Linked DNA regions of Homo sapiens. The protein of the gene in region 3 interacts with the protein of the main gene of each other region in a pairwise test. Each region holds a gene or a part of one and is shown on either strand. Other genes may lie near its edges. The genes, in order: DOCK2, PSMF1, KHDRBS3 and ZNF575.

Evidence for each region.
Region 1: the proteins of KHDRBS3 (region 3) and DOCK2 interact in binary tests that used the Homo sapiens proteins (3 or more experiments, as listed by UniProt).
Region 2: the proteins of KHDRBS3 (region 3) and PSMF1 interact in a two-hybrid assay, tested with the Homo sapiens proteins (2 studies listed by BioGRID and IntAct).
Region 4: the proteins of KHDRBS3 (region 3) and ZNF575 interact in binary tests that used the Homo sapiens proteins (3 or more experiments, as listed by UniProt).

Annotation. Positions count from the first base shown.
Region 1 is NC_000005.10:170,081,243-170,083,888, reverse strand, and holds the end of DOCK2 (dedicator of cytokinesis protein 2), read right to left. Parts: intron 2,048-2,646; coding exon 1,905-2,047; intron 1,094-1,904; coding exon 1,031-1,093; 3' UTR 507-1,030; downstream 1-506. UniProt on the Homo sapiens protein: Involved in cytoskeletal rearrangements required for lymphocyte migration in response of chemokines. Activates RAC1 and RAC2, but not CDC42, by functioning as a guanine nucleotide exchange factor (GEF), which exchanges bound GDP for free GTP.
Region 2 is NC_000020.11:1,113,861-1,121,621, reverse strand, and holds the start of PSMF1 (proteasome inhibitor PI31 subunit), read right to left. Parts: upstream 3,021-7,761; 5' UTR 2,849-3,020; coding exon 2,720-2,848; intron 1-2,719. UniProt on the Homo sapiens protein: Plays an important role in control of proteasome function. Inhibits the hydrolysis of protein and peptide substrates by the 20S proteasome. Also inhibits the activation of the proteasome by the proteasome regulatory proteins PA700 and PA28.
Region 3 is NC_000008.11:135,642,430-135,648,122, reverse strand, and holds the end of KHDRBS3 (KH domain-containing, RNA-binding, signal transduction-associated protein 3), read right to left. Parts: intron 3,065-5,693; coding exon 3,006-3,064; intron 1,131-3,005; coding exon 1,039-1,130; coding exon of another isoform or gene 1,026-1,038; 3' UTR 513-1,025; downstream 1-512. UniProt on the Homo sapiens protein: RNA-binding protein that plays a role in the regulation of alternative splicing and influences mRNA splice site selection and exon inclusion. Binds preferentially to the 5'-[AU]UAAA-3' motif in vitro.
Region 4 is NC_000019.10:43,528,528-43,536,208, forward strand, and holds ZNF575 (zinc finger protein 575), read left to right. Parts: upstream 1-4,660; 5' UTR 4,661-4,994; exon of another isoform or gene 4,995-5,267; 5' UTR 5,268-5,375; intron 5,376-5,809; 5' UTR 5,810-5,895; coding exon 5,896-5,974; intron 5,975-6,501; coding exon 6,502-7,160; 3' UTR 7,161-7,560; downstream 7,561-7,681. UniProt on the Homo sapiens protein: May be involved in transcriptional regulation.

The DNA.
Region 1 (2,646 bases), on a different chromosome or scaffold from region 3:
CTCTTGCTGCTGCCTGACAAAGCTACTCACCTCCTTTGGGCCTCATCTGAAAAACCTGAGAATTCCTCCAAGAAAAGCCACCACTTGGGAGCCGGTGACAAGATCCAAGAGCTGGACCATAAGTCCACTGGACCTCAGACCCCTCTTTTCCTAACTCTTTGGCATTATGTTTGGTCTTTACTAGAGTGACCTGGCTTGGGTGGTCTTGCCATCTCTTTCTAAAGGTGAAGAAAGGAGGTATGACACTCCACTATTCAGATTCGTGAGGAAGACCAGGGCAACTTTTTTAACATGCTGGTAGCCCAGGGTTTGGCACCTAAGGAACAAGAGTCATGGAGATTCTTGAAGAATCTTCTCATAGATGAGGTGGGGAAATTTGGCATTGGGCAAGGGCATCACCAGGCTCCTTCACATCACTGCAGCCCCTGGGCCTGCCTTCCTTCCAGGGAGCTTCCTGCCCAGTCCTGGGCCCAGGAGAGTCAGCCAACAGAATCAGGCAACAAGGCTTATTCGAACCAAGAGAACATTTTTTATTGTCAGTAAGAAACAGCAACTCTTCAGAGATGATTGGCTAGAAAAGAAACTGGTTGGTTGTATAAAAAAATGTAAAGTACAAAACTGTTAATCTAAAATAAAATTAAAAAGAATATTTAAAAGGCTTCCTTTTCTGTTAAGTTCTGAGACTTAATAAATGAGATAAAAACAGTTTCTTACACCTAAGAAACTGGGTTATGAAAGCTGTGCCTAGGATGTTGGGGAGAGCACACTGGGAGAAGGCATTCTTGCTGGTACCTTGAGTTCAGGAATCTACGTTGAGGCTTCCTCATCCACCATGATCACAGCCCCAGGGGATGCTGGGCTTGTTAGCATTCAAGCTCTGGGACCTGATTGGCCTCTCTGTCTCCTCTAAGTAAGGACAACTGATGGGGACAGTCTCCCACTCTCTGAGGCTTCGATGTTCCACGCATGGCTTTCCTCTTCCAGAAACTCCCCTCCCTGGCTCTCCCATGCAGCCCTAGTCAGCAGCAGCTCACAGGTCCGTGGACAGCGAGTCTGGGATCTGTTTGCCTTCTTCAGCCGATTTGCTGGCCAGCTTTTGAGAGAATAAACAAGCACAAAACCAAGATGCGATTATCAGATTAAGCACCAAAATGGAGCTTCCCAGTCCTAATCACAAGGGCCTCAACACTGACCCCTGCCCAAAGCCCAGTGAATGTGAGCTGCTATGCCCTTGGCTTTGGCCAGAAAGGCAGTGGTAGACAGTAGAGTGAGCCCAGGCTCACTAGCCATGTGGACTTGGGCACCTCACTTACCAAACCCTGTGAGCCTCCCATATAAAATCCTAAGAGTGGGAGCTCAAATGGCACCATGCTTGGGAAGTGCTTAGCATGGTGCCTGACTCATCGTGTGCTCATGGTAAACTTGAGATATTTGTAGTAGCAGAGTCCTGATTTCATATTACCTTGAGGATCAGATGTGTTATGGTACCTTCTTGATCTTGAGCAAAGGCCAACAAGTAACAATAGGAGATGGGACTTGCAGAATCAGCGCTTGGAAACTAATGTTCAATTTGTAGGATTTTGTGATATAGGTTGAATAAAAAAGGGCTGGAGCACTAAGGGGCAGTTTAGGCGAGGGTAGGCCACCTACTGCTTCTGAGGTCCCTGGGTCCTGCACATCCCTAGCTGGGGTCAATCCTGGTCAGAGGAGCTGCCTGAGGCCCCAGAGGAGAACTGCCCTCTGGGCATTGCTGCACAGTGTCCCAGAACTCAGGGCCTCCTGACTATGCCTCCCTAGGAATGACCACATATGCACACACAACCCCCCATTTTCTTCTCTCTGCATTGCTCTCTTCCCTTTCTCCTCCCAATGCCTTCCTTTCCTTCCACCCTCAATGTCCTCACCATTGTCTTGAAGAACTGATTGACCTTCTTCCGTGTGAGTGTCTTCTTGTCACCATCTGAGAGTTGGAGGAAGGTCTGGCTGAGGCGGGGAGATGTGTTGGCCTCATCCAACCCAGGGATGCCTGCCACTGAGAGCGCCAGGGCTGGAAGGAGAGCAGAGCTGGGGTGTGAATGGGTGGGTAGAGGAGGGGCAGTGCCTTGGGGGAGGTAGACAGGGGGAGGGCTGGGGGACAGAGCCAGCATCCAGGGATCACACATTGTATGTGCCAAGCAGGAGGCAGGATGCCTATTTCCTGCCGTGCCAGGGGACATTGAAGCTGTCCTCTTGCAGTGAAGATTGCCCACCCTACAGACAAGGGTTCAGCCTCCTGGCTCCTGGTCAAAACCTTGCCCCAAAGCCCTGACATCCCCAGGAAACAGAACCTTCTGCTCCAAGGCAGGGGACAGTGTGAGCTTACTCTTCCTCCAGCTCCCAACACCAACACCCTGGATTTCTCTCCCCATTGCAGGAGACAGCGGGAAGAGAGTCTCAAACCCACGTGTCACCTGGTGGAGGGGCCAGATGACCTAGTGGTTACAGCCCCAGCTTGGCGTCACAGAGACATGAAAAATTAGTTACTCTCTGACTGCTGGTTTTGACATTGGCCAAATGGGAGAAAGAGCCCAGACCGCCAGGGTGTGGTGAGACCTGCTGAGCAGATACCAGTGAAATGGCTTGGGCCAAATGTTGCAGCTGTGTTCA
Region 2 (7,761 bases), on a different chromosome or scaffold from region 3:
AACAGCAGATGGCTGGAGAGGCAACACAAATATCCTCTGAGCTTGGAAAACACAATTGAGTCAGCTGAGTTGGCTGGCCCCAGGCTGAAAAATTAAACCTCTTCTTAAATAAACTAATAGGAAAGATGCCTCTCCAGTTTCCACTCTGAATGAAAGTAGACTCAGCAGAAGCGACAGAAGGACAAGTGCAACCTGAGCCCCAATGGCAATCAAGGAGAAAAGGCAGAGAGAAGCAAAAATACACCACACTCTAGTTTGCAATCCAAACACTCATTCCTTCGGGGGCATGCAAGATTTAGTGCTGGGGTAGATAGAGGAAAGGTGGCAATGCCTTACAAAAACCTAATTCCCCAGGCTCCTGGGCCTCCCCAAAGATGTCTGAAACCAGCATCTTTTTCTGGCCTGCAGAAGCTCAACGAATAGCACCATGAACAGAGAAAAATTAGATGGACCTTGGGGAATTGGTCAAGGACCTTTTTAAAAAAAAAAAAAACTATTAAAATGAGATTGTATTCTTTCTGTACATTTCATCTGAAAATTTTGGAGCCTTGAGTGTATGGCAAGGTGGTAATGCCAGCTAGAAGGTATCGACTTATGTGAACTCATGTCCCTAAACTGTCAAAGTGATTCAGACAGCATGAGTGAGGGTAAGAAATGTAGGAGCAGATCCACAGTGATTGATATTTATTTGTGGAATGGCAAGGAGAGAAGGGTATCAGACACGCCCTCTAGAACAAGTTCCTCAGCAGAGGTGGATGGGGTTCTGACAGTGTGGCAGAGTCTAAGTAGCTAGCTAGGAGTAGGTAAGGGGAGTGAGGTACATGAGGAGGGACAGAGTGCAAAGCAGAGCTGTTCCATCTGAAGGACAAGACAAAGGGCAGGGGGAGCTGAGGGCCAATGGAGGAGATCCCAGGTCAAAATCAAATCTTACTCCTCTTCTCAGCCCCACTGTCCCCTGCACCATCCCACATACCAGTTTCTTTGAAGAATCTAGGAAAAGTTGAAATAAAATGACTGGGGCAAGTGAAGAGCTGCTTAAGATTAAAAAGCTGGAGTAAGACAAGTGGGGAGACAAGATTTCTGTTAGGGGAACTATGCATTGAAAGAGGGGCCTGACGCTGAAATGGGGGTGCTGTCTCTACCTGGTCCCAAGGTCTGAAATGCTGGAAGACATTTGGAAGGTATGTGGAATGAAGAGCAGCACAAAGAGAAAGGTCAGGGACAGATGTGTTTGGGAAGGTGAAATGATTCCTGCTTCCAGGTATGTGTGTGTGAAAGGCTAGCTGTTCTTTTCCATCCTCATATCTAGTCTTAGAGCCCATTTGAGAGATGAAGTATGTGTGAGTTTGGAGGTGGGAATGGGGATCCTGAGTGTGTACCTGGGGTCCCAGTGAGATAATTGAGGTCTGGGGAAAAAAAGAGCCAGAAATCCCTGACGGTTCTTGTGTTCTGATTCCTGCTGGAGGGGGTAAAGTGTGAGAGGGGTATGGTGGTCTTGGTCTTTAGTTCTAAGAGACAGAGAGGAATAGGGACAGCAGTGAGGGGTGGGGGAAAGGGGATACTTGTCTAAGTGCTCAGAATGTACAAAGCAAGTTTGAAGAGAGGTCCCTAAAGCTATGTCAGGAGGGGAGAATTAAGACTCTATTTGAGAAGCTAAAAAAAATGATTAGAGGAGTTGAGAACTGAAGCAGTCAAAAAGGAGAGGAAGGGTGAAATCTCATGGCAAGATGCAATAGGTGGGGTGGTCTGTTTCCCATGGCTAGTCTTGGTTCTGAGAGTGAGAGAACAGTGACAGTGAGGGGCAGGCATGGAGGCAGGCCCACTTCTCCCAGGAAGCAGATGTCTAGGATGATGTGGATGTTGGGGATGAGGGTCACAGGGAAGAGACAGGAAAGAAAGAAGAATGCCAGAGCAAAGAATTAGTGAGGTGGGTTGGGTCCAGCAGTCCTAGAACTCTGTGGGGATGACAACGACGTCCCTAGCTGTAAGAGGTGGAGCCTGGGGATGGGAGAAGAGGGGCTGGCCCTATGGGGACAACTATGAGGAGAAAATCTTATATGACCCTCACACCCAGGGTGTATGTGTGTACGACTCTGGGGGTGATTGCTTCCTAGAGCTTGAGTTGGGGATGGCAGTAGCGAGTGGACTATGCTGGGCCCTTCAGTAAAGGGTGAAAGGCGTGTGAACTCTCTGGGCCCATGCTAACGGGTGAAAAAAGGGCCCTGGCCTGGGGCTGAGTAGGTCAAAGCTCACTCCTGTACCTGTGCTTGGATCCAGATGTTTGGTGGAGGCTCTACTGTGGTATGAGGGCGGAACTGAGTCAGTCCCCTCACCCCGAGGCTGGGTGGTAAGGAGTTCAGACGGGATCAGGTGGGTGAGAAGTGCTCTGGGGAGCTAAACTCCTGTCTAGATTCTTTGCCATTCTATGGAATGCTAGATCCACACAGTCCTGGCCTGAGAGGCTGCCAGGCTGTGTTGAAGCGAGTGTCCGCCCTTGAGTTTACAAATCATGTTGTGCCAGCTGTGCCGTGAGGGACTCTGGGCTGGGATGGGGCAGGTGAGCAACCTCCGACCCGCAGGTTTTACCAACGCTGCCATCTGCCCCAGACCCTGCACTGGGAGAAGCGGGGAAATCGGGCGCTCTGGACCAGGCCTCCGGTACTCTGAGTTTGGGCAGAAGACAGTTCCCTCCTCCACCCTGGCCGGCTCCGTGGCGTACCTGGTCACCGACACCCAAGCCGAAGTAACCGTGTGTCACCACTTCCCAATGCAAGAAGCAGACGAGCGCGTCCTGCCTGCAGGTGATGGCCGGCGCTGCCGATGCGAACAGTACCTCCAGGCCCGCCATGAGCGCCCGCGACTTCGGCGTCTGGAGGAAAGAAGGGGGCGGGGGTAGTGCAGTGAGCCGGCTCCGCGGCCGGGGTAGCTATAACTCTGCTTCCCTCTTGCGCTGGTTCTTGCCGAGTCCACACCTGAGACCAAAATGGAGACGCCCGGGGACGGGGCGGGGCGGGGAAGCCGGAAGTAGTCCCAACAGCGGGCGCAACTGCGTGAGGCGCGCCGGGTTGGCAACGCGAGCGCAGCACTGAAAGGTTCCGCCAGGGAGTGCGAGCGGGGCGTGGCCCCTCAAAGCCGGAAGCCGGGTCTTGGCGGCAGTCGACAGGATCGCCTGACGCGGGCACAGCGTCCTCCAAGAGGCCACCTTGCTGAGAGGCAGACTTCCCATCCACAAAATGGGGTATGCTAGGCCGGGGAAGGGGCTGGGAAATGTGGCTAAAATACATTCTTAATAATCGTTAACACGTTCGCCGTGCTTGCTACCGTCCACATTATTCTAAACGCTTTACTTGTATTCATTTATTTAATCTTCACAACCCAACTCTATGCAGTTGATATTAACGATTAATGTGCCTCATTGCACAGATGAGGAAACTGAGGCGCAGAGGGATAATTTGACCAAGATGACAACAGCCAGCCGGTGAACGGCTGAAATGGTTATGGGAACCTGGCAGTCTGGCTTCTAAGATAACATTTATTAAGTGTTTATTGTGTGCTACATCGTGCGCTAAAACCTTTACATCACCCTCTCAACAACTCTATGAAGTATGGACCGTTATTATCCCCATTTTGCAGATGACAAAACGGCTCAGAGTTGAAACCACTTCTCCAAGGAGACACAACTGCTGCCCGCAGAGCTGAAGCTCCTGACCCACTATCAAATTTCAATCATTTATTTGCCTACCCCCTTTATGATTTTTACCACCCGTTACTTCAACAAGTTTCATGAAATCCACTTATTGTTTTTACCCAAATAAATTTAGTTTCCCCATCCCAGTCACTAACCTGGTTCAAGCTCCTGTCATCTTTCACTTGGATGCCTGGCATCAGCCTCAGAACTGCCCCATTCCATTCCTGTCTCTCTCTAGTCTGTACTGCACTCCGCAACCAGAGAGATTCTGTTAGAAAACAAGTCAGATCGGCCAGGTGTGGCGGCTCATGCCTGTAATCCCAGCACTTTGTGAGGCCGAGGCAGGCGGATCACTTGAGGTCAGGAGTTTGAGACCAGCCTGGCCAACATGGTGAAACCCTGTCTCTACTAAAAATACAAAAATTAGCTGGGTGTGGTGGCGCACGCCTTTAGTCCCAGGTACTCGGGAGGCTGAGGCATGAGAATCAATCGAACCCGGGAGGTGGAGGTGGAGGTTGCAGTGAGCCAAGATCGCACCATTGCACTTCAGCCTGGGCAACAGAGCGATCTTCTGTCTCAAAAAAGAAAAAAAAAAAAAAAGAAAAGTCAGATCACATCCGTTGGCTCAAAATCGTCACACTCAATGGAAAAGTAAAGTCCTCCCCATGGTCTGCAGGAATCTGCATGTGGTCTGCCATCTCCTGCCCCAGCCCTGCCAGCCCTGTACCTCTCTGATTCAGTCTCCTTCAACTGTCCTCTCATCCCCTTTATACGTGCAATAACCTTGGCTCCCCCTCTTCTCTCACATCTACATCTGGTCCAACAGCAAAGCTAGTTGACTCCACTCTCAAAATATATTATGAATCTGACCACTTCCCATCACCTTCACTGCTTCCACTCTGGTCTGATCCTCCAGCATCTCACACTTAGACTATTGCAGTAGCTTCCCAGCCAGTTTCCCTGTTTCATGTGTTCTGTTTGGGCCTTTGCGTTCCTCTTCCTGGAATGCTCTTTTCCCAGATATCTGCATGTCTTGCTTCTTCATTTCAAGTGGCTTCATCCCTCACTCCTACCATCCTCAACAGAGGGCTTCCCAGACCATTCCATCCAAAATAACCTTCTCCCGTCTTTAATCCCTCTCTGGCTTTTTTTTTTTCCTGCAAAGCATTAATCATAACCTGAAACTATGTTAGGTGTTTATTTCTTTGCTTATTTAATGACTGTCTTTCCACTAGACTGTGACAAAGGAACAGGGAGCATGTCTACCTTGTGCACATATGTACCTGAGTGCCTTCTGGGATCAATCTATACTTATTGAAAGACAGAATGAATACTGAATGAAGGAATGAATTCTTGGCCTAGCCCCAACCCAGTCAGGGCACTCTTACCTCTTTATAGTCCATCACTCCCTTTGTCAGCTGGCCCTGTGCCTCTCCAAATTTTGTGTTCCTAAAGTTTCCTTGAGACAACCAGATTCTTGAACCCCTTCTGCAGAGATTCTGGATGAGAAGGTCTGAGGAAGAGTGCATGTATGTTGACTACATTCTGGATGACACTAAAGCTAGTGGCTGTGGAACTCCTCTCTGAGATGTACTGCCTGTGGCATAAAGCTATTTGCCCTTTCTACTGAGAAGTTCTGCACTTTCAGTCTTCCCTGCTTTTGCTTGCTCTGTCCCTTCTGTTTGTAATGCCCTTATCCAATTATGGAAAATTTCTACAGATTCATTCCATCAATAAACTTTCATAGGCTGGGCTGCCATGAACCATAGTGCAGGGTGTCCACTTAAGGTGCCTACTTAGTGGCAGCCCATTCCTAAGTGCCTACTGTGGGCCAGACACAGATGAACAGGTTCCTGTCCCTATAGAGCTCACTGTCTAGTGTTTAAAAAAAAAAAAAAGTACTGGCCAGGCATGGTGGCTCACACCTGTAATCCCAGCACTTTGGGAGGCTGAGGCAGGTGGATCACGAGGTCAGGAGTTCAAGACCAGCCTGGCCAACATGGTGAAACCCTGTCTCTACTAAAAATACAAAAATTAGCCGGGCGTGGTGGCAGGCACCTGTAATCCCAGCTATTCGGGAGGCTGAGGCAGGAGAATCGCTTGAACCCGGGAGGTAGAGGTTGCAGTGAGCCGAGATCAAGCCACTGCACTCTAGCCTGGGTGATAAAGAGAGACTGTCTCAAAAAAAAAAAAAAAGTGGATTAAGGATCAAAAGGTGTTCCAGTAAAAGGAAACAGTATGTGCAAAGGCATGGTGGAATGCAGCTAGCTCTGTGGGATTACAAGGTCAATGTTGCCTCCTGAGTGAGGTTTCCCTCGTCTCTTTGCCCATGATTAATTGCACTTTCCTCAGTGTGCTTGGCATCAGTGGGCTTTCAAGGGGTGGGCATGGGACAGTGAGAGCTATCAGCCTTAGTCAGGTGGAGAATTTTATCAATGAAGTTGATTCAAATTGCTGGTACATGATGACAGTAAAAAGTGGACTGGCCTTTGGTCTGTTTTGTTACTGCCTTTACGTTTTCTACAGCAAATGTACCTACTCCTTGTCTGCACCAGGGCAGACAGCTCCGTCACCCCCACCCCTTGGTTCAACACTGGTTTGCATACAGTTGGTTGTAGCTGGCATCTTACAGGGCAGACAGCTCCGTCACCCCCACCCCTTGGTTCAACACTGGTTTGCATACAGTTGGTTGTAGCTGGCATCTTACAGGGCAGACAGCTCCGTCACCCCCACCCCGTGGTTCAACACTGCTTTGCATACAGTTGGTTGTAGCTGGCATCTTACAGGGCAGACAGCTCCGTCACCCCCACCCCTTGGTTCAACACTGGTTTGCATACAGTTGGTTGTAGCTGGCATCTTACAGGGCAGACAGCTCCATCACCCCCACCCCTTGGTTCAACACTGGTTTGCATACAGTTGGTTGTAGCTGGCATCTTACAGGGCAGACAGCTCCGTCACCCCCACCCCTTGGTTCAACACTGGTTTGCATACAGTTGGTTGTAGCTGGCATCTTACAGGGCAGACAGCTCCGTCACCCCCACCCCTTGGTTCAACACTGGTTTGCATACAGTTGGTTGTAGCTGGCATCTTACAGGGCAGACAGCTCCGTCACCCCCACCCCTTGGTTCAACACTGCTTTGCATACAGTTGGTTGTAGCTGGCATCTTACAGGGCAGACAGGTCCGTCACCCCCACCCCTTGACACTGGTTTGCATACAGTTGGTTGTAGCTGGCATCTTACAGGGCAGACAGCTCCGTCACCCCCACCCCTTGGTTCAACACTGGTTTGCATACAGTTGGTTGTAGCTGGCATCTTACAGGGCAGACAGCTCCGTCACCCCCACCCCTTGGTTCAACACTGGTTTGCATACAGTTGGTTGTAGCTGGCATCTTACAGGGCAGACAGCTCCGTCACCCCCACCCCTTGGTTCAACACTGCTTTGCATACAGTTGGTTGTAGCTGGCATCTTACAGAACACTGGTTCCCTCTTCTACACCATCATCCCTGTCTTAACATGTATTCTCTCAGAAGCCCGTGGTGAGACAGGGATTTGAGTGGTTTATTTGGGAGCTGATTCCAGGAAATAGCGGTGGGGGCAGTGGAGTAGGGAAGTGAGACAGGAAGGAAAGGGAGCCAGCAGAGGGAGTGTGATGAAGCCAGTTACCTCTACGGGCAACTGGACCGCACTCCTACCCGGGAACTCTGGGAGGCAGTGTGGGGCATGTCTCAGAGCTATTGCATTTGAGGGCATCTGCCACAGGCTGAGAGCTGCTTCTGGGGTCCTGGAAGGCCCTCAGGCACAGAGTTGCATAATTTAGAGAAAGCAGTCTTTGCGTCTAGAGGTGACTGCTGAAGGGTGATGAGGGTGTTGTAGTGCGATCTGCTCTGTCCTCCCACACCCCTGACCGGGGGTAAGCCATGCCTTAGAAAGTCCGTAACCCAGGCCGGGCGCGGTGGCTCACGCCTGTAATCCCAGCACTTTGGGAGGCTGAGGCGGGCGGATCACGAGGTCAGGACATCGAGACCATCCTGGCTAACACAGTGAAACCCCGTCTCTACTAAAAATACAAAA
Region 3 (5,693 bases):
CCTTTGAAAATGAAGACCGTTTAAGGGTTACACATCCTCAGCCTTGGCGAGTGCGACCTCAATTAGTCAAGCCAGAAAGTCTTTAAAAGCTTTGTGCTTAGTGCTTCCAGCATGGAGCGAGGTGTTCATTAAGGTACCAAAATTCTCATAAAAAATCCAAAGTTGCACTAGTGAAAAAACGCTCAACAAGATGAAAACTGATCACATCTTTTTCAGAAAATCCAGTAGTTATTTTAAAACCAGTTTTTAAACAAGATTTGGTTTTGCGTAGTTTAACGTGCCACTCAAGCAGCTCGATACCATTTGGACTCTTTAAACAGCATTTAAATCTATGGTGAGTATATAATGGTACATTTAATTTTATACCATTTTTAAAATAAGTTGTACAATGTTTAGTGTGACCCTTTTATGACAAGCATTGTTAAATGAATTCTTTCCCTGTTTACAACTATTTATGAAGGCCTTTTTAAATAAAAAAAAACCCATGAAATTGTTAGCTCACACACACAAAATTTCTTTCAAAAGTTTATTTAGTATCAAGCAAGAGGAGACTTTGCTTAACACTACAGAACATTTCAAGACTTGAGTTACAAAAGAATACCACATTATTTGCACTTGTAATTGGCTTCCCTTTTTACGCATGTTGGCAAGAGAAAAAAAAACTAGCATATGGCTGAAAGATAAAATAACTAAATTCTATGGAAACCTTTAAAATGAAAGGTGAGGCTTATGTTAAAAGAATAGATTAACATATTTAGTAAACCTATTTTTTGTTTAACACTAGTTAATCAAAGTTATTTTTTTTCCTTTTGATGACCTATTTTTTCATATACAGACTGGAAATAACAAAATTTTACATGTCTTTTTTTTTTTTTTTCTGCCCAGGTTGATGTTTCAACAAAGTAGTTTTAAGTTCCATCCATTCAGATTTTAAGCATTCTGATTTATTTAAAAAGGGATTGTTCATAGAAAAAAATTACTTTGAACAGTATACAGGACTGGTGGAGATTGGCTATTTCACAACATCAGACAGTACAATCAGTATCTGCCATATGGCTGGTCTCTGTAGACGCCCTTTGCTGTCCTCGCTGAAGGTGCCTTGTGTCTTGAGTTAGTCCACTCTTCTTGCCCTACAATCAGTAAGATGAATCACAATTAGATCACTGCCATGAATCCCACAGGCTTCATTTTTCAGACTCTAACTTAGCCCTGAACCAAAGGTACATGTCATATTGAAAATATATACCCCTGGTGTACTGAAAAGAAAAACAAACAAGGAATTTACTTAAATAAATTACAAACACAAGGAAAAATAATCATCTCACTCGCAAAATTCGTCAGCGTGGGAAGATAAACGGTTCTTGTATCTGAAATGGTAACCAACTTCGCAAGGACTTTCCTTTTGGTTACTCATTTAACAACAGTTTACAAGCTCAAGTAGCAAAGAGAACTGCCTTTTGCTAAACATCAGGACATTTATGAGTGAAAAAGAGAATGGGAAAAGGATCACTTAGATGTCTTCCAACAGCAAAAACAAAGAAAAAACATAGGTAAACATCTGTGAAGACAAAGAAGAAAACCGGAGAGCAAAACGGGAAGGGGCAGACTGAGAAAGGGAAATATGACCTCATTTTTCACAGGCGCTTTCACGGAAAGACTGAAGGAAAGTTGCATTGGGTTGAACTTCACTTCTCAATAGCACTTCATGAATATGAAATGAATTTAACGACATAATGTCAGATTTCATTCATCATAATGCTAAATCCGTACTGAACAAAGGTATTAATAACCAGGGACATTCTATCATCTTTATCTCCTGAAATTAAACACCTGTTCAGCCTGAAGATAACTTTTAATGAGTTATCTATAAGTCTTGGACATCAAACAGTTAACATCCCTGCTGCAACATACAGCAATTTAAAAGCCATGTGTCCACAGAGACCAATTTAAAAAGCTGTGAAGGAAAAATGCTTAAAATGACCTCTTCTTTTGATACAAAACATGCAATCAACGTCACTCCCTCAAGCTAACTTGCATCAATTTAGGTAGCCTGCATTCAGCAAACCAACATATTTCTCTTAAGTGTTTGTTACGGATAACAAAAAAAAAAAAAAAAAAAAAAAAAAAAAATCCAAGGTGCAGCCATCACAGCTTCAGGCAGGTGATACAACAAAATGCACTTCAAAAGGTTTAACGCCGGAAAATGGTTTTTCCGTTCTGTTAAGAGAAATGTCCTAACATCCATTAACCACAATCCTGATATACTTGCACCGGGTACCAGGGATTCATCAGAGCTTTGCAACTGATTGAAGCTTCATGTTCTCTGATCTCCTTGCCCTGCGGCAAGGGCTCTTCTTACTACCATTATGTTGCTGCCGCCAATTCTTTTAATTATTAAACCTGTCATCGTTCTGCATAGTGAGACTTTGGACATGAAGTCCCCAGCATCTCTACCAGCTCCACTGAATTAAGAGGGGTTTAGCTGCTGCCCTTTGTAAAGCTTACAGACCCTGTATCTCCTCCTTGGCTCAGTGCTTTTGTAACCTTTATGAAATGACTCCCAGTGTAATTTTTTTCAGAGGGTTTGAGATTGGAAATGAATTAAAACATAAAGATGAAGGTGGGAGAATCACTTTAGAGCTGTAGTCTCAATTGCTTCATTTCCCTTCACTGTCAGGAAACAAAGACACTTCAAAAAGACCCAGCTATCAAGTGTCTGAAGTTTGAAAAACTACTCTGTGAGAAAATCAGCACACGGCGACCAACTCAAACATAAAATTTAAGTTCAGAATCTGGATTCATGCAATCTTCAGCAAGTCTTTAGTCCTCTTCAAATATTTATATAATAAAGGAGCCCTAAAAATAGCTAGACATGCACAAATGAATTGACAGGAAGCTGCTGTTTCAGAGTCCAAATGTCCTTATTCTCTTCCCATTAATATCTTTAAGGTCTTTCTACGGCCATCTCTCCTCCCTCTCTTCACATGCTCTGGCCAGTCACTCACCGTAGGAATCATAAGTCTCCTCACTGAGTCCATGTCCGTAATCATAGTAATCAGCACCACTGCAAGTGATCAAAACAAAACAAAGGACAAAATCATCTGGCTGTGAGTTTCAACAGTATTCAATAACGTATTGTAAAACTTAAAGACAACTAATGAAGGGCAAGACTGAAAATTCAAAGAAATTCCCACCGAGATCACAGAGTTCTAAAGCAGAAGTGTCAACTTTGGGATTATCAAAGGACCCTTGTCTAGCTCCCTAATTTTAATACATAATAAATATGTTTCGACATTTTAACCACAACAATTGGCCACGCAACACACAGTAAGTGCCTAAAAGTGCACGAGGGAATACAAAGACAGCACCTGACCTGGGAAGACTGGGAGTCTGCGGAGAGGGAGGATGTGTGTGGACAATTCTAGCCCAGTGTGCCAAGAGCTAGGGCTGGGCCTGTGCAAGGCACTGTGGGAGTGGGGGAGGAGGTAAACACCTCCTTTCCAATAGATGGGATGTTTACAGAAGGCAAAGACTTTATTTCTTCTTACACCCTCGTCTACCAGAGAACCCGGTGCTGCATGAATTGTGGGTGCTGTACTTTATAGTACATTAAAAACAAATGCCCAGATGAAATGTTTTCTTTGACCGGCACTGTTGCATCACCATCCGGAAGCTGCTGGGAAAAGAGGACTCAGCAGCCATGGCCACATGGGACAGGAGAGCAGGGAAATGGATCTCTGCAGTCCAGTCACAAGTCTGGTTACATGAGGCCAAGGATCTTTTCAAAGTACAGGCAAATCCACGTTCCAATGTACAACATCCTTGAGAGAGCACGAGGAAAGAGCCATCACTGACAGCAAGAGGGAAGAGTTCTCACTGCCATTTTGCAGATGATGCAAAACAGCCTACATATATACAATGTATTTGAACTAGGAATAATTTTTTACAGGAATAGACTTGTGAAAAGTCTAGATTACTCAGCCATAACCATTCTGAGTATTTGAGAAAGAGTTTCCATGTACCCTCTCAGGCTTTCCTCTTTCCCACTCCATTTTGTAGGGAAACCACCATCCTGAATTTGTTATCTTAGACTGTCATGGAAATAAACATCCCCATTCTTCCAATTTCATACAATCAAGAGGTTTCTAATCAAAATGGAAAATGATCCAGCTCAGATGTTTAACACCTCAGGAAGTCACAGTTTGAGGAGCACAGATGCTTGCTGTGAATGTCTACTGAACACCAGCCGCTGAGATCCCACATCACCCCCGGCCTCGGATAGTAAAACTGCCATACCCATTTGACAGATAAGGATACTGCAGACCAGAAGAGCTAAGAAGCCAGGCTAAATTGCATGGAGAACAGTATAACTGAATCTCTGTGACTACACAGGCCAGACTTGTGGTCACAACCACACGGAGTTTTTCCCCCACGTTTTCTTTCTCAGGAAAATGACACCAGAGACTAATCATCACATTTAATGACTACGGCACAGCATGGCCATTCCTATGAGAAAAGTGTAAGCAATGGAGCTATGTTCCTTTTTATCTCAAACATGTGGGCATGAGTTTTTATATTTGCTACTCTTTCTGCCAGAAGGCCCTTCTCTCCTGTCCTCCAGGCTATTTCCAACTCAAGCCCTTAACCTAAATGCCACTTCCAAAGAGAACCTTGCTGGTATCCCTGAGTGAGGTTGGTTTCCCACGACAGCATGCCCTGGTTCTCATTCTTTTGGCCTGGAGGAGACCCTCACGTTACATATGTTAAGTGGGTATACGGAGAAGGGGCACCTCCATCACTCTAGTGTAGTGTGTCATGAATGGCTTGGAGCATGCAGTGCTTGCACAGTGTTCTGAGGGTGAAGGTGAAGACAGGTGGAGAAGGAATGGACAGAGGCAATGGCAGCAAGGGTCTTCCAGGCAGAAGAAACAGAATATGCAAAGCAGAGGCAGGAAACAGGTTGGAAAATCTAGGTGTCAACAAGCAGTTCAATCAAATATAGTAAGTATTGATGAAAAATGCCTGGACCAGGCCAGGCGCGGTGGCTCATGCCTGTAATCTCAGCACTTTGGGAGGCTGAGGCGGGCGGATCACGAGGTCAGAAGATCGAGACCATCCTGGCCAACATGGTGAAACCCTGTCTCTACTAAAAAAAAGTATATAAAAATTAGCTGGGTGTGGTGACGTCTGTAGTCCCAGCTACTTGGGATGCTGAGGCAGGGGAACTGCTTGAACCCAGGAGGCGGACGTTGCAGTGAGCTGAGATTGTGCCACTGCACTCCAGCCTGGCGACAGAGCGAGACTCCATCACAGAAAAAAAAAAAAAAGACAAATGCCTGGACCGGAATATTCCTTAGAATACTTCTTCCACACATAGAATATAGGCCCCACCTTGTTATCCTGGCTTAATCATATCCTTACAAGCTAATTAAATACGGTGTAACACGGAGGTTATGATTTGAGCTCTCTGTATAAAATAAGCTCTCTGAAATGGGCTGTGTTAAGCTCCGCTGGCTTAACACATTACAGAATAGTCACTACTACAGCTGACCTAATATACCAAGTAGCAATGTGCAATTTTTCCACAGAGGTACATGTAGCCACAGAGTTTTAAAAAATGGTCTTCAAATTAAGGGCTGGCATTCCTAAAAAAATTTAGAAGAAAAACGAGTGTGAGAGGAATGCAACTATTG
Region 4 (7,681 bases), on a different chromosome or scaffold from region 3:
TTTTGTAGAAACAGGGGTCTTGCTATGTTGCCTAGGCTGGTCTCCAGCTCCTGGCCTCAAATGGTCCTCCCACCTGGGCCTCCCAAAATGCTGGGATTACAGGTATGAACCACTGAGTTATCCTGTCCCACAGCTTCTGAGGAGGGGTTTCCTGCAACAACATTTATCTTAATTCTGGAGTTTCCAGGGAATGGTCCCTGGAGCTATTTTCAGAGCAGCCCCTGTGTGAATGCCTTTACACAGAGAAGGCCTGCTTTTCCTTAAGCCTATCAAATTGCTTCATTAAAATTTTATGTGGCCGGCTGGGCGCGGTGGCTCATGCCTGTAATCCCAGCACTTTGGGAGGCTGAGGCGGGCGGATCACGAGGTCAGGAGTTCAAGACCAGCCTGACCAACATGGTGAAACACCATCTCTACTAAAAATATAAAAATTAGCTGGGTGTGGTGGTGCACACCTGTTATCCCAGCTACTCAGGAGGCTGAGGCAGGAGAATTGCCTGAACTCGGGAGGTGGAGGTTGCAGTGAGCTGAGATCGTGCCACTGCATTCCAGCCTGGGTGATGGAGACTCCATCTCAAAAAAAAAAAAAAAAAAAAAAAAAAAGCATATGGCTGAGCTCATGCACAGGCACTTTGAGCACTTTGGGAGGCCTAGGTGGGCAGATCACTTGAGGTCAAGAGTTTGAGACAGCCTGGCCAACATGGTAAAACCCCATCTCTACTGAAAAAAATAAAATAAAATACAAAAAAATTATCTGGGCGTGGTGGGGCACGCCTGTAGACCCAGCTACTTGGGAAGCTGAGGCATGAGAATCATTTGAACCCAAGAGGCAGAGGTTGCAGAGTTTGCAGTGATCCAAGATTGCACCTCTGCAACATAGCAAAACCCTGTCTGGGCAACAGAGCGAGAGTGTCTAAAAAAAAAAGGCCAGGTGCGGTGGCTCACGCCTGTAATCCCAGCACTTTGGGAGGCCAAGGCGGGTGGATCACGAGGTCAGGAGATTGAGACCATCCTGGCTAACACGGTGAAACCCCGTCTCTACTCAAAAAAAATACAAAAAATTAGCCGGGCATGGTGGCGGATGCCTGTAGTCCCAGCTACTCTCGAGGCTGAGGCAGAAGAATGGCGTGAACCCGGGAGGCGGAGCTTGCAGTGAGCCGGGATCGTGCCACTGCACTCCAGCCTGGACGACAGAGCGAGACTCCGTCTCAAAAAAAAAAAAAATTCCAGGCATGAGGTCTCATGCATGCCTGACTCAAGCTAGACAAAGCTGAGGACCCAGAGGTGACTCAGTCTGGCTGGTAGGCGAGAGAGGTAGGGAAAGCAGGTCTGAGACACAGGGAGGTGTAGGGATTTGGGGAACTCAGGGGAGGGAGGAGCCAGGGAAAGGAAGACCCTCAGGCACTCCTTACTGAGAGGGTCCCCCAAATAAGAACTTCTCGCCCCTGGCACCCTTTCCCGTTGTTTTTGCAGAATTTCTAGACCATTTATGTGTCCTTTGAAGACACACCCTAGGCAGGGTTTATAGGCTCAGCTGTGAGATGTTCTAAGAGTTAGACTTGGCTTCACCCTTCTCAGGTGTAGGACCTTGGGCTGAAAACTTATCTTCTTCTGGGTTCCAGTTTTCTTATCTACAAAATGAGGTTGAAAATAGTTCAATAGCCTGACATAGCACAGGCTCTCAATGGGAACTGCCCATCATTATTTTGTCACTATCCTTGACTCCTTCCTACCCTTGCCACCTCCACCCACTTCCAGGCCCTGCTGAGTTAAACTCTCTCTCTTTTTTTTTTTTTTTTTTTTTGAGATGGAGTCTTGCTCTGTTGCCCAGGCTAGAGTGCGGTGGTGCAATCTCAGCTCACTGCAACCTCCGCCTCCTGGGTTCCAGAGATTCTTCTGCCCCAGCCTCCCAAGTAGCTGGGATTACAGGTGCACACCACCACACCCAGCTAATTTTTGTAGTTTTAGTAAAGATGGGGTTTCACCATGTTGGCCAGGCTGGTCTGGAACTCCTGACCCCAAGTAATCCACCTGCCTCAGCCTCCCAAAGTGCTGGGATTACAGGGCCGAGCCACCGTGCCCAGCCAGATTTAACCTATCTTAACCAGGCCACTTTTCTGTTATCACACCCTCTGCCCCATTCAAGGGGCAGCAAAGCATAAATGCAAATTGCCTGGACTGCAGGGCCAGGCTGAGGGATTCAAATCCTGGCTCTGATACTTCCTGGCTGGGATGACCTTCCCCTCCACACTTCATTTTCCTCCTCTGTACAAGGATGATAGTAGCACCTCCTCTTAAAACATTGCTATGGGGATTAAATAAATTAATGCACATAAGGACAGTTTCCAGTGTATAATAAGTGCTAGCAATTAATACTGTAATTAATATATAACAATACCCTCACTGGTCTTCTGGCTTCTACTCTGCCTTCTTAAAATCATGGTTCTTGAAAATAGCTGTGGCCCTAGAGGTTGGGCGCGGTGGCTCACACCTGAAATCCCAGCACCATGGGAGGCCGAAGTGGGCGGATCACCTGAGGTCAGGAGTTTGAGACCAGCCTGGCCAACATGGTGAAACTCCATCTTTACCAAAAATACAAAAAAAAAAAAAAAAATTAGCCAGGCGTGGTGACGGGCACCTGTAATCCCAGCTACTCAGGACGTTGAAGCAGGAGAATCACTTGAACCTGGGAGGTGGAGGTTACAGTGGGCTGATATCTCGCCACTGCACACCAGCTTGGGTGACAGAGCAAGACTCCGTGCAAAAAAAGAAAGAGGTGGGCACAGTGGCTCACCCCTGTAATCCCAGCACTTTGGGAGGCCAAGACGGGTGGATCACGAGGTCAGGAGATCGAGACCAGCCTGGCCAACATGGTGAAACCCTGTCTCTACTAAAAATACAAAAATTAGCTGGGTGTTGTGGTGAACACCTGTAATCCCAGCTACTTGGGAGGCTGAAGCAGGAGAATCGCTTGAACTCGGGAGGCAGAGGTTGCAGTGAGCCAAGATTGCGCCACTGCACTCCAGCCTGGGGGACACAGCGAGATTCCATCTCAAAAAAAAGAGAGAGAGAGAGACCGAAGTGTCACTTCAAACTAATACAATGTGTGGAGCTCATTTAGATCTTAAGTCAAGCAAATCAAGTGTAATAAAAAGATATTTATGAGATATGATGTTTGACATTTAGCTTCAGAATCATTTGGGAAGAGTGGATGGGGGGTAAATCAAACAATACTGGTCATGAGTGAATAATTATTTTAAAAACTTTTTTTTTAAAGATACGGGGTATCACTCTGTTGCGCAGGCTGGAATGCAGTAACACAATCATAGCTCATTGCAGACATGAACTCCTGGGTGAGTCCCCACTCCCTACCCCCGTGAAATAGCTGGGACTACAGGCTGCCATTAAGCCAGACTTTTTTTTTTTTTTTTTTTTTTTTTTTAAGATGGGGAGGTGTCTCACTATGTTGCCTAGGCTGGGATTTTTGTTTGTTTGGGTTTTTGGTTTTTTTGTTTTTTTGAGACGGAGTCTCACTCTGTTGCCCAGGCTGGAGTGCAGTGGCTTGATCTTGGCTCACTGCAACCTCTGCCTCCCAGGTTCAAGCCATCCTCCCACCTCAGCCTCCGGAGTAGCTGAGATTACAAGCGTGTGCCACCATGCCTGACTAATTTTTGTATTTTTAGTAGAGACGGGTTTTCACCATGTTGGCCAGGCTGGTCTCGAACTCCTGACGTCAGGTGATCCGTCCACCTCCGCCTCCCAAAGTGCTGGGATTACAGGCGTGAGCCACCGTGCCTAGCCCCCGTCTAGTTTGGAAATCCTGGGCTCAAGTGATTCGCCCGCCTCTGCCTCCCAGAGTGCTGGGATTACAGGCATGAGACAGGGAGCCCGGCCTAGGCACTTTCTAGTCTAAACACTTTCCATTGATTATCATATTTAATCCTAAAAACGCTCCATTTTATAGATGAGGAAACAGGCCTAGAAAGAGAGCTAGAAAGGGTCACACGGCTAGAAAGTGGCACAGCCGTATTCCAAACCAGTTACCCAGGCAATCTGGCTCCAGAGTCCAAATAACCCCGCCAAACTCCCAGGGATCGCCAGACCTTGCGGGTTATCGGACTGAGACCCACCCATGCAGAGGACTTTTATGGGCATTTCCTGGTCCTTTCTGCACCAGGCAGGAAGGTGCACCGCCACTGCTCGGGAAGAATGCTAAGCTGCATGCCACCCCAGGCCTGGCACCAAGAGCATGGGCCAGGGCACCTCGGGACCACCCAGGCTTCCGAGGGGGAAGGTAGATGGGTGCGTGGCTGAGAATCTTGAATCACCCAATAGCGAGGTGTGCCAAGGCGCTGTGCAAATAACGTGCCTTTTATTGGGCACTGGCTCTCTTTGAGCCCGGAGTCCCGCCCCCGCCCTCTCTCGAAGAACTGGCCAGACTTTTTGCAAACGCCTTGAAGGGTAGAATTAGCAGCGAGCTCTTGAAACTGCCTCTGGAGATGGAACTCAGCGGAATTCTCGAAAAGAAGAGGGACATTAAAAAGACGGGTGCATGCACTGATTTCCAAGCGCAGTTTGTCCATGTTAGTCTTGTACATGCTTGACTCCAGTCAGCCACCGTAGGCCCCGCCACCGGCGGTGCACTTTCTGTCGATACGGTAGCTTCGCGCTTGCTCACGAACTTGCCTGCCTGGCTGGCGCACCCAGCCCCTCCTTCCATTCCTTCTTCCCCCTCTCTGCAGCCTCTGCCAGCCCGCACTGCGCATGCTTTCTGACGCCCCCTTTGGTCCAGCGTGGGAGGAGGGGATGGAAATGAGGTTGGGCTAAGCAGCTTGCGCGCGCTCCCTTGCCTGCCCTCCCCCGACGCCGGACGCGCGCCGGGCGGGGCAGCTCCGCTGGTCCGAGGGCAGTGCAGCAGCGGCGACAGCGGCTGCGGCCGTGGCCGTGGCGGGAGGAGCCGGAAGCCCCGCCCCCGGGGAGGGGCCGTCCTGCAGGTGAGGGCGCAGGGGTTCGGGCGCGGATATTGGCTTGCAGGCTGAATGCCAGAATCACCCCGAGGGAGATCGGTTGTGGTCCGGACGCCTAGATTCTGGAGATGCTGGAGGGACTGTGCATTGGTGCCAGAGCCTCGGGAGGGTGCATCGGTGCCTGAATGTCTGATTCCGAGGGGTGCATTGAATCCTTTACGCTTGGGACTCTGAGGGAAAAGTCCATTAGGGGTCTCTGGACCGCGACGCATGCCAGGTTCCTTCCGTATCTTCCTCCAGGTCCCCCCTCTATCCTCCACGGCCCCATCCAAGCCAGGGATGAAATTTAACGGCAAGAAGGGCGCAGTTGACGCGGCGTCAATGAACTGAGACTAAGTCAAAAGCCGGGTAAAGCTAGGTCTTCGACGTGAAGCCCCGCCCACTGTGCCCATAGGCCCCTCCCCTGGGACGGTGATGAAAGACCTGCCCACTCCGCTCGAAGGCCCCCGCCCCCTGGGTCTAGTTTCAGAACAAGACTTTTTTTGTACAGCCCCGCCCATTCCAGGACTGCAGGGTCTGGTGGGGAAGGTCCCGCCCACTCTGCGCATAGGCCCCGCCGGCTCCGCGCTTAAGACGGCCGCTGAGTTAGTTGTGGAGACTCCGCCCACTCTGCTGAAAGACTCCAACCCTGGGTTTAGATAGCGAAGGGACTGCCTCTGGCTTGAATTTGCATAGCCCCGCTCACTGTGCTCTTAGGCTCCGCCTCCCCGCTAAGCCTGCCCCCGCCTTAGCATCCCATACTTGCAGACCTTGCTCCTAAACAGTGTGATCCCTCATTTTAGGCCCTCCAACCCTATCCCCATCAGCCTGGTCATCACCGGCGTCACCCCCGCCCCGCGCCCTGCCCCTAGGTTCCTGTGCCAGCAAGATGCTGGAGCGAGGCGCGGAGTCCGCGGCCGGGGCTACCGATCCTAGTCCCACTGGCAAGGAACCAGTGACCAAAGAAGGTGAGAGTGCCCCGCCTGTGAGTAGGGAGCATTCTCCAGGAACGGGGGCCAAAATAATCACATTCTGGGGGAATCTCAGGGTGAAAATTTGAGGGCCCTAGGGTGATGACTATTTGGGATCCCCAAAACTGCCACATTCTGGGAAATCCTCCCATTTGGCTCAGAGAGAGCCTCAGTGACCATTTGCTAAGGCTCAGGAAATGAGCCTTACAGAAGGGACGGGTCAGGGATGACATGCGGGATGTCAGGGTGATCACTGGGAAGATACTAGAAACGGATACCTTGGTAGCTTTGAGGAAGCCTTAGTAGCTTTGGGGATCCAGGAAAGTAACCCTTTGGAGTCCCTCAGAATGACGCCTGGGGGGAGGGGGGAGCAGAAACATGCAATTTGGGGAGTCTCAATGTGATGCTTGAGGTGCCCAGGTACACTTGGAGGAGCCCCACGAATATCAAAGTCGTGGCGGAGCCTGGCCTAGGCCCAGGGCGTTGGCTGCTTCCTGGAGCCCACCAGCCCTCCTGTCCCCCAGCTCCCCACCAGGGCCCACCGCAGAAGCCCAGCCAGTCAGCTCCAGGGCCCACCGCGTCCGCGGGCTCGCCTCCCCGGCCTCGCCGGCGGCCCCCGCCCCAGCGCCCGCACCGCTGCCCCGACTGTGACAAGGCCTTCTCGTACCCGTCCAAGCTGGCCACGCACCGCTTAGCACACGGAGGCGCCCGACCCCACCCATGCCCAGACTGCCCCAAGGCCTTCTCCTACCCCTCCAAGCTGGCAGCCCACCGCCTCACGCACAGCGGCGCCCGCCCGCACCCGTGCCCACACTGCCCGAAGTCCTTTGGCCACCGCTCCAAGCTGGCGGCTCACCTCTGGACCCACGCACCCACCCGCCCCTACCCGTGCCCCGACTGCCCCAAGTCCTTCTGCTACCCTTCCAAGCTGGCGGCCCACCGCCACACGCACCACGCCACCGACGCCCGCCCCTATCCTTGCCCGCATTGCCCCAAGGCTTTCTCATTTCCCTCCAAGCTGGCCGCCCATCGCCTATGTCACGACCCCCCAACCGCGCCCGGCAGCCAGGCGACTGCCTGGCACCGATGCTCCAGCTGCGGCCAGGCCTTTGGCCAGAGACGCTTACTGCTCCTTCATCAACGCAGCCACCACCAGGTGGAGCACAAGGGGGAGAGAGACTGAGCCCTCCCTTGGCTCACTGTCCCCTTCTGCCGCCAGCCCTAGCCAGTAAGAGGTGGGATTTCTAAGACCGACTGTATGAGCTCGCCTCTTCCAGATAGCTGGCAGAGGGCAGGGCAAGGGATTGGCCATTTATACTGGGCTCGAGCTCAGAAGCCCGAGGAACTCTTTGCTCCCCTGCTTTGGGGAGATCTCAAACCATGGACGTGGAGCTGTGGTTTGACAGCGCTGGCTCTGCTTCTCCCCACACACTTACATGGCAAAGGTAAAAAGTCTGCTACTATCGTGGGTTGATGAGGATTGTGGGCAAACAGGCTCTCTTGTTAAAAGTTTAAACTGGTGTCTCCACTTTGGCCATATGACGGTATCTAAGAAATTGAAAATACATACATGCTTGTCTCAACTCTTCCACTTGTAGGAATTTATTCTATAAACTCATGAATGTGAAAAAAAAGCATAGTGTTAAGGGTGTTCACTGCAGTGCGACTGTTGTGGCCAAAGACTGGAAGCAACTCAAGTGCCCA